Regions from separate parts of the Homo sapiens genome. Here region 2 is linked to region 1. A link means that fine-mapping ties the variant in region 1 to the expression of a gene that starts in the linked region. Tissue or cell type: whole blood. Region 1 holds a variant in brackets; the other region holds the start of a gene. All regions are shown on one strand. Distances are between the middles of the regions.

The links.
Region 2: AKIRIN2 starts here. The variant in region 1 is fine-mapped to the expression of AKIRIN2 in whole blood (TOPMed, PIP above 0.99).

Annotation. Positions count from the first base shown.
Region 1 is chr6:87,738,942-87,744,322 of GRCh38, forward strand. No RefSeq gene overlaps it. Among named protein-coding and RNA genes, the nearest start is that of AKIRIN2, 39 kb to the left of the region's middle. RefSeq lists an enhancer at 3,318-3,467. The variant G/A (reference allele first, on the strand shown) is at 3,396.
Region 2 is chr6:87,699,846-87,705,226 of GRCh38, forward strand. AKIRIN2 (akirin 2) reads right to left here and starts at 2,388. Exons shown (of 5, transcript NM_018064.4): 1 at 1,605-2,388. The coding sequence starts at 1,839. RefSeq lists silencers at 1,560-1,769, 1,950-2,119 and enhancers at 2,280-2,339, 2,650-2,959.

The sequences.
Region 1 (5,381 bases):
TGAACAGACTCGGAGGAAGGCATGGAAAGTTTAAAGTGTCATTATAAAGAGAAAGGAGATTCTGTAAGCCTTTAGCTCCCAGTCCTCTTCACTGAGAAGTCGAAATGTATCATTTCTCTCATCCTTGATGTTAGTGTGAACCTAGCTACTAGTTTCCCTCTTTCTTCTGCTGAGATAGTGCTTACACCCAAGGCGCTGATTCTGTTTCTGATTCTTAGCCACTGGGCAAGATTTACTACTTGGATTCAACTTATGAATGAACATATTTCAATCTTATAGTGATTTTAATATTTCTTTATCGTTAGTAAGAACTTAAAAATCATGAGGATATAATGTTATTAGTGATAAATTTTATTTTACTTTTTTGGAACCAGAACTGCCAGATGAGGATTCTATTTTTTTATTTTTTTTATTTTCATTGTTTTGAGACAGAATCTGGCTCTGTGGCTCAGGCTGGAGTGCAGCGGTGTGATCTCAGCTCACTCCAACCTCCACCTTCAGAGTTCAAGTGATTCTTGTGCCTCAGCCTCCCGAGTAGCTGGGATTATAGGTGTGTGCCACCATGCCCAGATAATTTTTGTATTTTTAGTAGAGACGAGTTTTCACCATGTTGGCCAGGCTGGTCTCGAACTCCTGGACTCAAGTGATCAGCCCACCTCAGCCTCCCAAAGTGCTGGGATTACAGACGTGAGCCTATAAACTGAACCACACCCGGTTCAGTTAAAAATTTTAGAACAGGATTTGTAAATTTCCTAACTACATGCATATGACATTCACCTACTGCAATGACAGCAATAACATTTCTTTTTTTCCTTTTTTCTTTTTTCTTTTTTTTTTTTTTTTTTTGAGACAGTCTTGCTCTGTCGCCAGGCTGGAATGCAATGGCGCGATCTCAGCTCACTGCAATCTCCGCCTCCCAGGTTCAAGCGATTCTCCTGCCCCAGCCTTCTGAGTAGCTGGGATTACAAGCGCACTCCACTACACCCAGCTAATTTTTGTATTTTTACTAGAGATGGAGTTTCACTGTGTTAGCCAGGATGGTCTCGATCTCCTGACCTCATGATCCGCCCACCTCGGCCTCCCAAAGCGCTGGTATTACAGGCGTGAGCCACTGTACCCGGCCAACATTTCTTTTTAACTAGTGGATAAAATATGAAATTAAAAGGAAAAGTCTGTATCTAAGGTAATATATATTTTAAGGTTTTTCCTATGATCATTTAAAAATTGGCTTCTCTGGTTTAGATCCCAGTTTGGAAAATCAGATATAAAAGACATTTTGGGAATTGGGAGAAAATTTGAACATGGACTGAATGTTAGGTGATATTAAGGGGTTAGTATTAATTTTGTTCAGTGAGATAATATTATTTTAGCTATGAAGGAAAATGTTTTTACATTTTAATGACATATGCTAAAGTATTTATGGGTGGGATATTACTATGTCTCCAATTTGTGATGGCAAAAGATCACTCCTTAGATGGCTTGGCAGTCACTCTGAAGGGGAAAAACACAACTTTACAGGGTGAAATCTGGGAGTTACCACCTAAACCCAGTGACCAATTTTGGCATCACCAAAAGAGAGACACTAAATTATGTACCTCTTGATATACATAAATACATATATACATATGATACATGTGAGTTACATACATATATATATGTATGTATGAAGTACAGCCTTGTGTCTGTATTTGTATCAGCCTTGTATCTGTACAGCCTTGTATCTGAAGTATTGCTGCCAAGATGTTTAATCTACATTTTTTTTTTTGAGACAGGGTCTCACTCTGCGCCCAGGCTGGAATGCAGTGGCATGATCTTGGCTCACTGCAACTCTGCCTCCCGGGTTCAAGCGATTCTCCTGTCTCAGCCTCCCAAGTAGCTGGGATTACAGGCACCTCCCACCACTCCTGGCTAATTTTTATATTTTTAGTAGAGATGGGGTTTTGCCATGTTGGCCAGGCTGGTCTCGAACTCCTGACCTCAGGTGATCCGCCCACCTCAGCCTCCCAAAATGTTGGGATTACAAGCGTGAGCCACTGCACCCGGCCGACAAATAGTCTTAAAATGGGAATACTTGGCCGACAAATAGTCTTAAAACGGGAATATCTGGCCGGGCGTGATGGCTCACGCCATCTCATAAAACAAAACAAAAAAGAAACTGGAATACCTAATATAAAGGTTTTACTACACAAGAGGAAGGGGAAGATAGCTACAATCAGTATTTTATGAGCACTTACCACACGCTAGGCACCATGCCACGTGTTGGAGATACTGCAATCAACAAGTGGCCCCTGCATAGTGGAATGTACTGTCTGGAGTGAAAGACAGACAAAAACATGCAAACAGACAAATAACACAAATAACATGAGTTTGGAGAGTAATTCCTCTGATGGAAGAAACAAACAAGCACTACGGAGAAGAACAACAGTTGTGATGGTCAGAAAAGGGATCTCCTTGAAGGCACATGCAGGCTGTGTCTTATAAGAGAAGCAGGAGTCAGCCAGAGGGAAGGTAAAGAGAAGAGCTATCTAAACAGAAGCAGCTGTGTGCACAGAACTCCTGGGGGGGAGATGGAATAAGGAAAGCCAATGTGATTCAGGTGTAGTGAGCAAGGAGGACTGTGACACAGGGTGAACTAGAGAAGTAGCTTTCAGGTCACGGCAAAAAATTTAATTTTTTTCCCCCAAAGTGCAGTGAGTAGCCATATTCCACAATATTCTTTTTTTTTTCTTTTCTTTTGTAGAGATGGGGTGTCATTATGTTTCCCAGGCCTGTTTTGAATTCCTGGTCTCAAATGATCCTCCTGCCTTGGCCTCACAAAGTGCTGGAATTACAGGCATGAGCCACTGCACCTGGCCAACGATATTCATTAATTTAAGGAAATTCCACTTTTAAGAATACTTAGGGCATTTGCTAATACACTAAAAGCTTAAGAGTCACAACTACATGTCTTACACTCCAGCCATACTCAACCACTCACTGGGACCCTTTCAGTTCTATTTGGATGCCTCCCACCTGCCAATAGAGCAAATTGATACTCATCTGGGGTATTAGGAATCTATTGCTGTATAACAAATTATCCCAAAAGGTAGTGATCTAAACCAATGATAAACATTTATTACCTCACAGTTTCTGGGGTTGGGAATTCTGAGTGGCTTAGCTGTATGGTTCTAGTTCATGGTCTCACATGCAGTTGCAGTCAAGATGTTGGCTGAGGCTGCAGTCATCCAAAGACCTGACTGGGACTGGAGGAGCCACTTCCAAGATGGCTCACCCACGTGGCTGTTGTGGGCAGGAGGCCTTACTTTCTTGCCATGTAGTCATCTTCATAGATCTGCTTGAGTGTCCTCGTGACATGGCAGCTGACTTCCTTCACAGTGAGTGATCCAAGGAAGAGA[G/A]TAAACAGGAAACCATAATGCTGCTGATAACCTCATCTTTGAAGTACACTGTCACTTCTGCCATTTTCTATTAGTGTCACTAGTAGACAGCACAAAGAAGTTGACACCAAGTGCTGTGGCTCATGCCTGTAATCCCAGCACTTTGGTAGGCCAAGGCAGGCAGATCATCTGAGGTCAGGAGTTCGAGACCAGCCTGGCCAACACAGTGAAACCCCGTCTCTACTGAAAATACAAAAACTAGCCGAACATGGTGGTGGGTGCCTGTAATCCCAGCTACTTGGGAGGCTGAGTGTCACTAAGTCCAGTCCACACTCAAAGGGAGGGGAGTTAAGTTCCACCTCTTGAAAGGAGAAGTATCTAAAAATTTGTGAACATATTTTAAAACTACCACATTTGGTGACCCAGCTCAAATGTCATCTTCTATGTGAAGCCTTTCTTGATTTTCCTGAGCAGACCTAGTCATTCTCTTCTCTCAGTTTTCACAGCATGTCATTTCTATTCCTTAAAGCTCTTGTCTTTTTAACTGTAATCAATTGATTTACATGCTTGTCTTTCAACTAGCCTGGAAGATGCTTCAGGCCAAGATAATGTGTTTTATTAATCATTTGTATCCTCAATCTGCTCATTAGTGAAATCCTAGGAACACTACGAAATACTACCTTCCACCACTCCTAACACAAGTTTTTAAAAGATCCCTTCGCACTTAATGCTTTTCTTGCTTTTTCATATTCTTGGTTTACTCTCCCTCTCCCTTCTGAACTAGAAGACAATTTCAAAAATAAGACTGTATTAGTTATCATTTTTAAAAATTCTTTATAATGACAAAGACAATGCTCTGCATTACAGTAATAGATTTTTAAAAGAATTAAATAAGAGAAGCCCCTTTAGAGTTAAAAAAATATTTCTAACTTCTTTAATAATCAGAATATCTAATGGCTATCTCGGTTCTATGTAAACCCTAACAAGAAAAAGATAACCTCAGTTCATAATGCATAAAACATGCAGCACTGAGAAAAAAGACCTCTGAAGTACAGGGGTGTTCTATTCTGTTTTGTTTGCTTCCTTATTGTTTGGGAGAGGAGACAGCTAACAATGAAGCTTTCTTTAGCATTCAGTGGAAAGAACGTCAAGAAATCTTGTTTTTATTTTCTCTTGAAAAATGAGAAGCCATATTCCCTCCCATAGTTACAAAGTATCATCCTGTCCTTGATCTCTGTTTCTAGAATGTTCTCAATTCAGATGGTTTTTATCTAGATTCAGTTGGAGGCCTGGATGGCCTTGGTTCTGATAACTAGAAATCTTGTGACAATCTCAGAAGTCTTCTGGGGCAGATTTCTTTGGTTTTGGGACAAGATTTGACCAGCCCTGAATCTGTGACAGGTCTGGGAGGGGCAGGGGAAGAAATGAGCAGAACCTGGAACAAGGTCTACACCTCCGCCCCCTTACAACTTGACTAGGAAGTTCTTTCTGATGGTCCCTCATTCAAGAGTCAAGATTACTACACATTAAAATTTTAAAAAGACAATGGAAGAGCTCCCAGCAAAATAGCCTATGTGGCAGTTTAGAGGGTGACTTTCTTCTCAAAAAGAGAAAGTGGATGTAAACCAACTCTTCTCCTTTCTTTCTCTGACCTGTAAAGGCAGAACTGCCTGGACAGGACAAAAATGCCTGATTTTACTGAACAATCCTATTTCTTTCTCTTCTTTTCTCTTTCTTTCTTTCCTTCCTTCCTTTCTTTCTTTCTTTTTTTTCAAGACAGAGTTTCGCTCTTGTTGCCCAGGCTACAGTGCAATGGCACGATCTCGGCTCACTGCAAACTCCATCTCCCGGGTTCAAGCGATTCTTCTGCCTCAGCCTCCCGAGTAGCTGGGATCACAGGCGTGCAGCACCACACCCAGCTAAGTTGTATTTTTAGTAGAGACAGGGTTTCTCCATGTTAGTCAGGCTGGTCTTGAACTTCCGACCTCAGGTGATCCACCCACTTCG
Region 2 (5,381 bases), 39 kb before region 1:
CTAGCACTGTATTAATTCACTCCCTCGACTGAAATGTATTGCTGGTTAGCTCCTTAATGACCTTATTTTGAAATGGCTTTATTAGTTAAGTACAGAATCCATTTCAATTTCCAATGATACCATTTCACTAAAAGACAAATTCCAAAAATGTCAACCACCAGTAGCTCATTCTTGACATTGGCTGTTTCCTTTTTTTTTTCCCAAAGTAAAGCCTAACAATTAATCAACAAATGCCTTTTCAATCTAATTAAAACACAGTTTAGTAAGGTCATTAAATAAATTTATCTAAGAATTTCCGTAAAAACTCACTACAACTCTAAAACAGTATGTCCTTAAATTAGACCAAATATTTAATAGCAAAAATGGTAGCTTGCATATTCGAGGGTCACTCCATGGATTTAGAAAATATTTTTAAATGTGACAAAAAAAAAAAAACACTAAAGTCAGTTTCAAATGGAAGTCACCAAATACAGAGGTATATACTTCGGTTTTTTAAGCTACTGATAACGAGACATTTAAATCAAGCTATGGAAAGGCTTTGTCTAAAGGGTGATATTATTACTAAAGGCTCACACAGAAATCTTTGCATGCTACACACAAAGGAAACATTTACACTTCTAGTCCACAAAAGCCTATCCTAGGATTGTGCCAGGGGCACACAAGGATTTCAAAGTACAGAAAAAACTGGGCATACACATGCCCTACAAAGCAGCCAAAAGACATTCCCCAGTCTCTCTCAGGAAATGTTTCAAGATGAAAAGCAAAAGTCTGAAGTCCCTTGGAATCTTGGGTTGATTTCTTCATTATTCTCAAGGCTAGGTTGTTTTCCCCCAGCATACTTTGTTGGGCAAAAATAAAACATTTCCAAATAAAAGCAACTCCTCAGCCCCAATTTTCAATGCAATATGCTTATTAAAAGTTCAACATTTCTCAAGGTCTAGACTTATAGTGTGATCATATTACAGTACTCGGGAAGAGCATTTTCTTTGTTGTTGACCCTGCTAGGGAAACAGGTCTTGACTCAGCCAAAGTGGCGTTCTTGTGGGTGATTAATGACAGGCCTAGATCTCGCCCTAGTGACATCCATCCCCCACCCCCCACCCCCACTATACTAAAATCAGCCGTGTCTGAACTGAAGGAGGGGCTGTAGCCTCGCCTCAAACCACCCAGTCCCAGAGTTAATAGCTGCAACCAATCGATTACGGCAAGCACACATCCAGATTGGGGTGAAATGTGACCCTTTCGCCTAAATTTACGAATAATATCGTCCTCTCTGATCATTTCCGCTGGGGCTCCAGCGACTACGGAAACAATTCCAATCATTCGGCCCAAAGAAAAAGATGTCCCTGTTCTACCCAATACGGGCAAGGCAAAGCCCCTACCCACCTCCAAACACTATCCCCTTGACATCAGCCCATTTCTATTGTGTCTTATTAGGTCCTCGGGCTACGAGGACCTAGTGAAAAACGTGGCTGCCCTACTACTTTGCTAAGAACAAGAACCACACAGTCCGGCACCCCCACCCCAGGGGCCGCATCCCACACCCCAGGACCCCTGTTCCCAGTTCTCTCCACTACCCCGGCGGCCGCGGGGCCGGGTCCCACCTGTGGTGAGGCGGGAGGAGACGTCGCCGAAGGGGGATGGCTCCATTCGGAGATACTTCTGCGGCGAGGCGGCCGCAGCGGAGAAGGAGGCGGCGGTGGCCGCGGCCGCCGACAACGGGGAGGCAGCGGCCGAGGTGGGCGCCGACAATGGCGCACATCGCCTGCGCTTCGGGGACGCCGGGCTCAACAGCGGGTCGAAATCCAGAGTCCTTTTCAGAGTGGCTCCGCACGCCATGGCCGGGGGCAGCTGAGGCGCCGGGCTCGGGTGGGGTCGGGGACGGGTGACGAAAGAAGAGGGTGAGGGAAGGGGTGAAGAGCGGGAACTCGAGGAGAGCCTACCCGACGGGCTCAGGAGCCAAGCGGGTCGCGGAGCGCCGGCTGTGGAAAGGAGAGCCGCTGCCGCCGCTGCCTCCGCGGCAGGGGCAGTGGCCAGGGACGGCCCGGGTGAGAGCGGGAGGGGCGGTGGCGGGCAGAAGCACACGCCAGTCGCGTCAGGGGGGTTCTTCCGCCTCCTCAGGCGCGGCTCCCCCGAGAGAGGCTCCGGCCGCCCCCGCCGTCCGCTCGAGCTTTGCGCCGCGCCTGAGGCGCTTCTGTGCTGAGACTAGATCCTTTCTGAAGTCGAAAACAGCACCGTGGGGTGTGAGGCTGGAACGCGGCTCCTAATACGCCCGAGTACGGTCAGTAGCTTGCGAGCGGCGATCGATGCAGAGAGATTGCGAGGTAGCTGCCGCAGCAGGAACCCAAGCGAACACGTCCAACCGCTTCCCCTCCCTCGTAGAACTCTCCCACCCGCCGCCGGCCCCAATATGGCGTCAATAACAACGCCGCCGATTCAAATCCGGCGGCCTCAGAGCGCTTGCGCACGGGGGCGGGCCAAACCGGGGATGCATTTTGGGAGTTGTAGTTTTTAGGTACCGGGAGGAATCGGCTTGAAAGGCGGGAAGGGAGGAGTCACAGAAACTACGACTTCCGTCATGCAAGGCGCGCGATTCCGAGTTCCGGGTTGGAATTTAAATCCCCCTACACAGCTTGAGTGTAAGAGGAACTAAGCAAAAGAGAAAAAAAGAGAAGGTTCTGAGACAGTGGGAGATGGGAAAGCGAACCCGTGGCAAAAGCAGGCTAAGCGACATAGAAATCTTTTAAGATTCTCCGTATAGTTGCTCCCACAGTGATTTCAGATCTGGGAAATATAATAAACCAATCTCTAGTCAAAGTTAGCTTAATTTCGGTAGCGACAGTACCCAAAACAAGACCTTTCACATGGAGAGGATAGGAGATAATGAGATTATGAAACCTATTTAGGACTGGCAGACAGAACAACAGTAATAGTATCAGGTTACAGGATCCTTGATTCAACTCGATGCTCTACCCTTCGGAGGTAGCTGCTTCATCCACTAATGAAATTCTGTAAAGCCAGCTTTGCTTCTGTAAATGAATAGGACTTGAACGACTTACAGAATCAAATTGTTTTGCGTTGGGTAAAAAGCAAGTGGTATCAGACATTGCATTACTTCTGTTGAATATTGGTGCATATATTGTGAACTTTGTTACAAAACTAATCAAAAGACAGTGAAATGTTTAGGTAATAGATATTGGATGGATCCATTTTGTAAGCGGAAGGGGAAAAAAGTGTTTCTAGAAGTTGTACTTTTAGTCACATACCTAAAATAAGAATCAAATACAGCGCTAATTTAGAAAGTGATCTGTGTAGCCGGGCATGGTGACTCACGCCTGTTATCCCAGCACTTTGGGAGGCCGAGGCAGGCGGATCTTCCTGAGGTCAGGAGTTCGAGACCAGCCTGGTCAAAATGGTGAAACCCCGTCTCTACTAAAAATACAAAATTAGCCGAGCGTGGTGGCGCGCGCCTGTAGTCGCAGCTACTCGGGAGGCTAAGACAGGAGAATCATTTGAACCCGGGAGGCGAAGGTTGCAGTGAGCCGAGATGTTGCCACTGCACTCCAGCCTGGGTGATAGAGCGAGTCTCTGTCTGAAAAAAATGAAAAGAAAAGAAAATGATGCCGGGCGCGGTGGCTAACGCCTGTAATCCCAGCACTGGGAGGCCGAGGCAGGCGGATCACGAGGTCAGGAGTTCGAGACCAGCCTGTTCAACATGGTGATACCCTGTCTCTACTAAAAATAAAAAAAATTAGCCGGGCGTGGTGGCGCACACCTATAGTCCCAGCTACTCAGGAGGCTGAGGCAGAAGAATCGCTTGAACCCGGGAGGCGGAGGTTGCAGTGAGCCAAGATCAAGCTACTGCACTCCAGCCTGGGTGACAGAGCTAGACTTCGTCTCAAAAAAAAAAAAAAAAAAAAAAAGTGATATATGTAGAAACTATCACCAGTGCAATATGAAACAATTTTGTGAATGCCAACTGTCAAATGATTATAAATACTGATTTCCAGTGCTCATGTATTCTTCTTTATTCAGTAACAGATGTTTTATAGCCATTTTGTCTATTATTTTTAAACCATATTTAGAAGTAGTTCAATATATTCTTTTTTATAGACAATTTTATAGAATTGTCCAGTGCTTCAGAGATCAGCAGTCCTGATCACACTGTGTCAACAAGTAAGCCCTTCTAGTTTTAATTTAGGATATTTGGAAATATCCTACATTTCCTACATTTGGAAAATCTTTTGAAAAAGATAAGCATTTAATGAAACAGCAGCTTAACTAAGACACCTACTAGGTAAATTTCTAGTAAATTCTAAACACTTGGTAATATTTTCTGAAATTAAGATTTGCCCATAAGTTATAAAACCTACATTTGAAATGTGATGTTGTGAGTTAAATTCCCTATGTTTGAGGGAATTCAAGGACTTCAAAATTCATATGAAGTCCTAACCTCCAGTACCTTAGAATATGACTTTACTTAGGAATAGGATTATTTCAAATGTAATTAGCTAAATGTAGTAGGATGGGCCCCTAATCCAATATGACTGGTATTCTTATACAAAAAAGGAAATTTGGGCCAGGTGCGGTGGCTCACACCTGTAATCCCAGCACTTTGGAAGGCCGAGGTGGGAGGATCACTTGAGGCCAGGAGTTTGAGGCTAGCCTGGGCAATGATAAGAAACCTCATCTCTACAAAAATTTTTAAAAAATTAACTAGGCATGGTGGTGGTCACCTGTGGTCCCAGCTACTCGGGGCAGCTGAGGTGAGAGGATTGCATGAGCCCAGAAGGTTGAGGCTGCAGTAAGCTGTAATCACACCACCACACTCCGGCCAGGGTGTCATAGCCAGACCCTGTCTCAAAAAAAAAAAAAAAAAAAAGAAAAGAAAAAAAGGCCAGGGTGAAGGGGAGACTGGGTGGGGGTGGGAATTTGAACCCAGGCATGGGCCCAAGGGAATTTTGACCCACATGAACATGAACATGAAAATAGAGATTAGGGTGATGCTTCTACAAGCCAAGGAATGCCAAAGATTGCCAGCAAAACACCAGAAGCTAGGAGAGAAGTTGTTCTCCCTCAGTCCTCAGAAGGAACCAACCCTGAAAACACCTTCTCAGAGTTGTATTCTCTAGACCATGAGACAATAAATTTCTGTAGGTTAAGCCATCCAGTTTGTGGTACTTTGTTATGGCAACTGTAAGAAACTAATACAGAGAGGATTGTGGTTATCAGGCTATCATTTGAAATATACCAGAATGCCTAGAAAATGAGGAAAGTATTTTTTTGTTTAATTGTGGAGACAGAGGTCTAAGTTGCCGAGGATGGTCTCAAACTCCTGGCCTCAAGTGATCCTCCCACTAGCATTACAGGCTAGCATTACA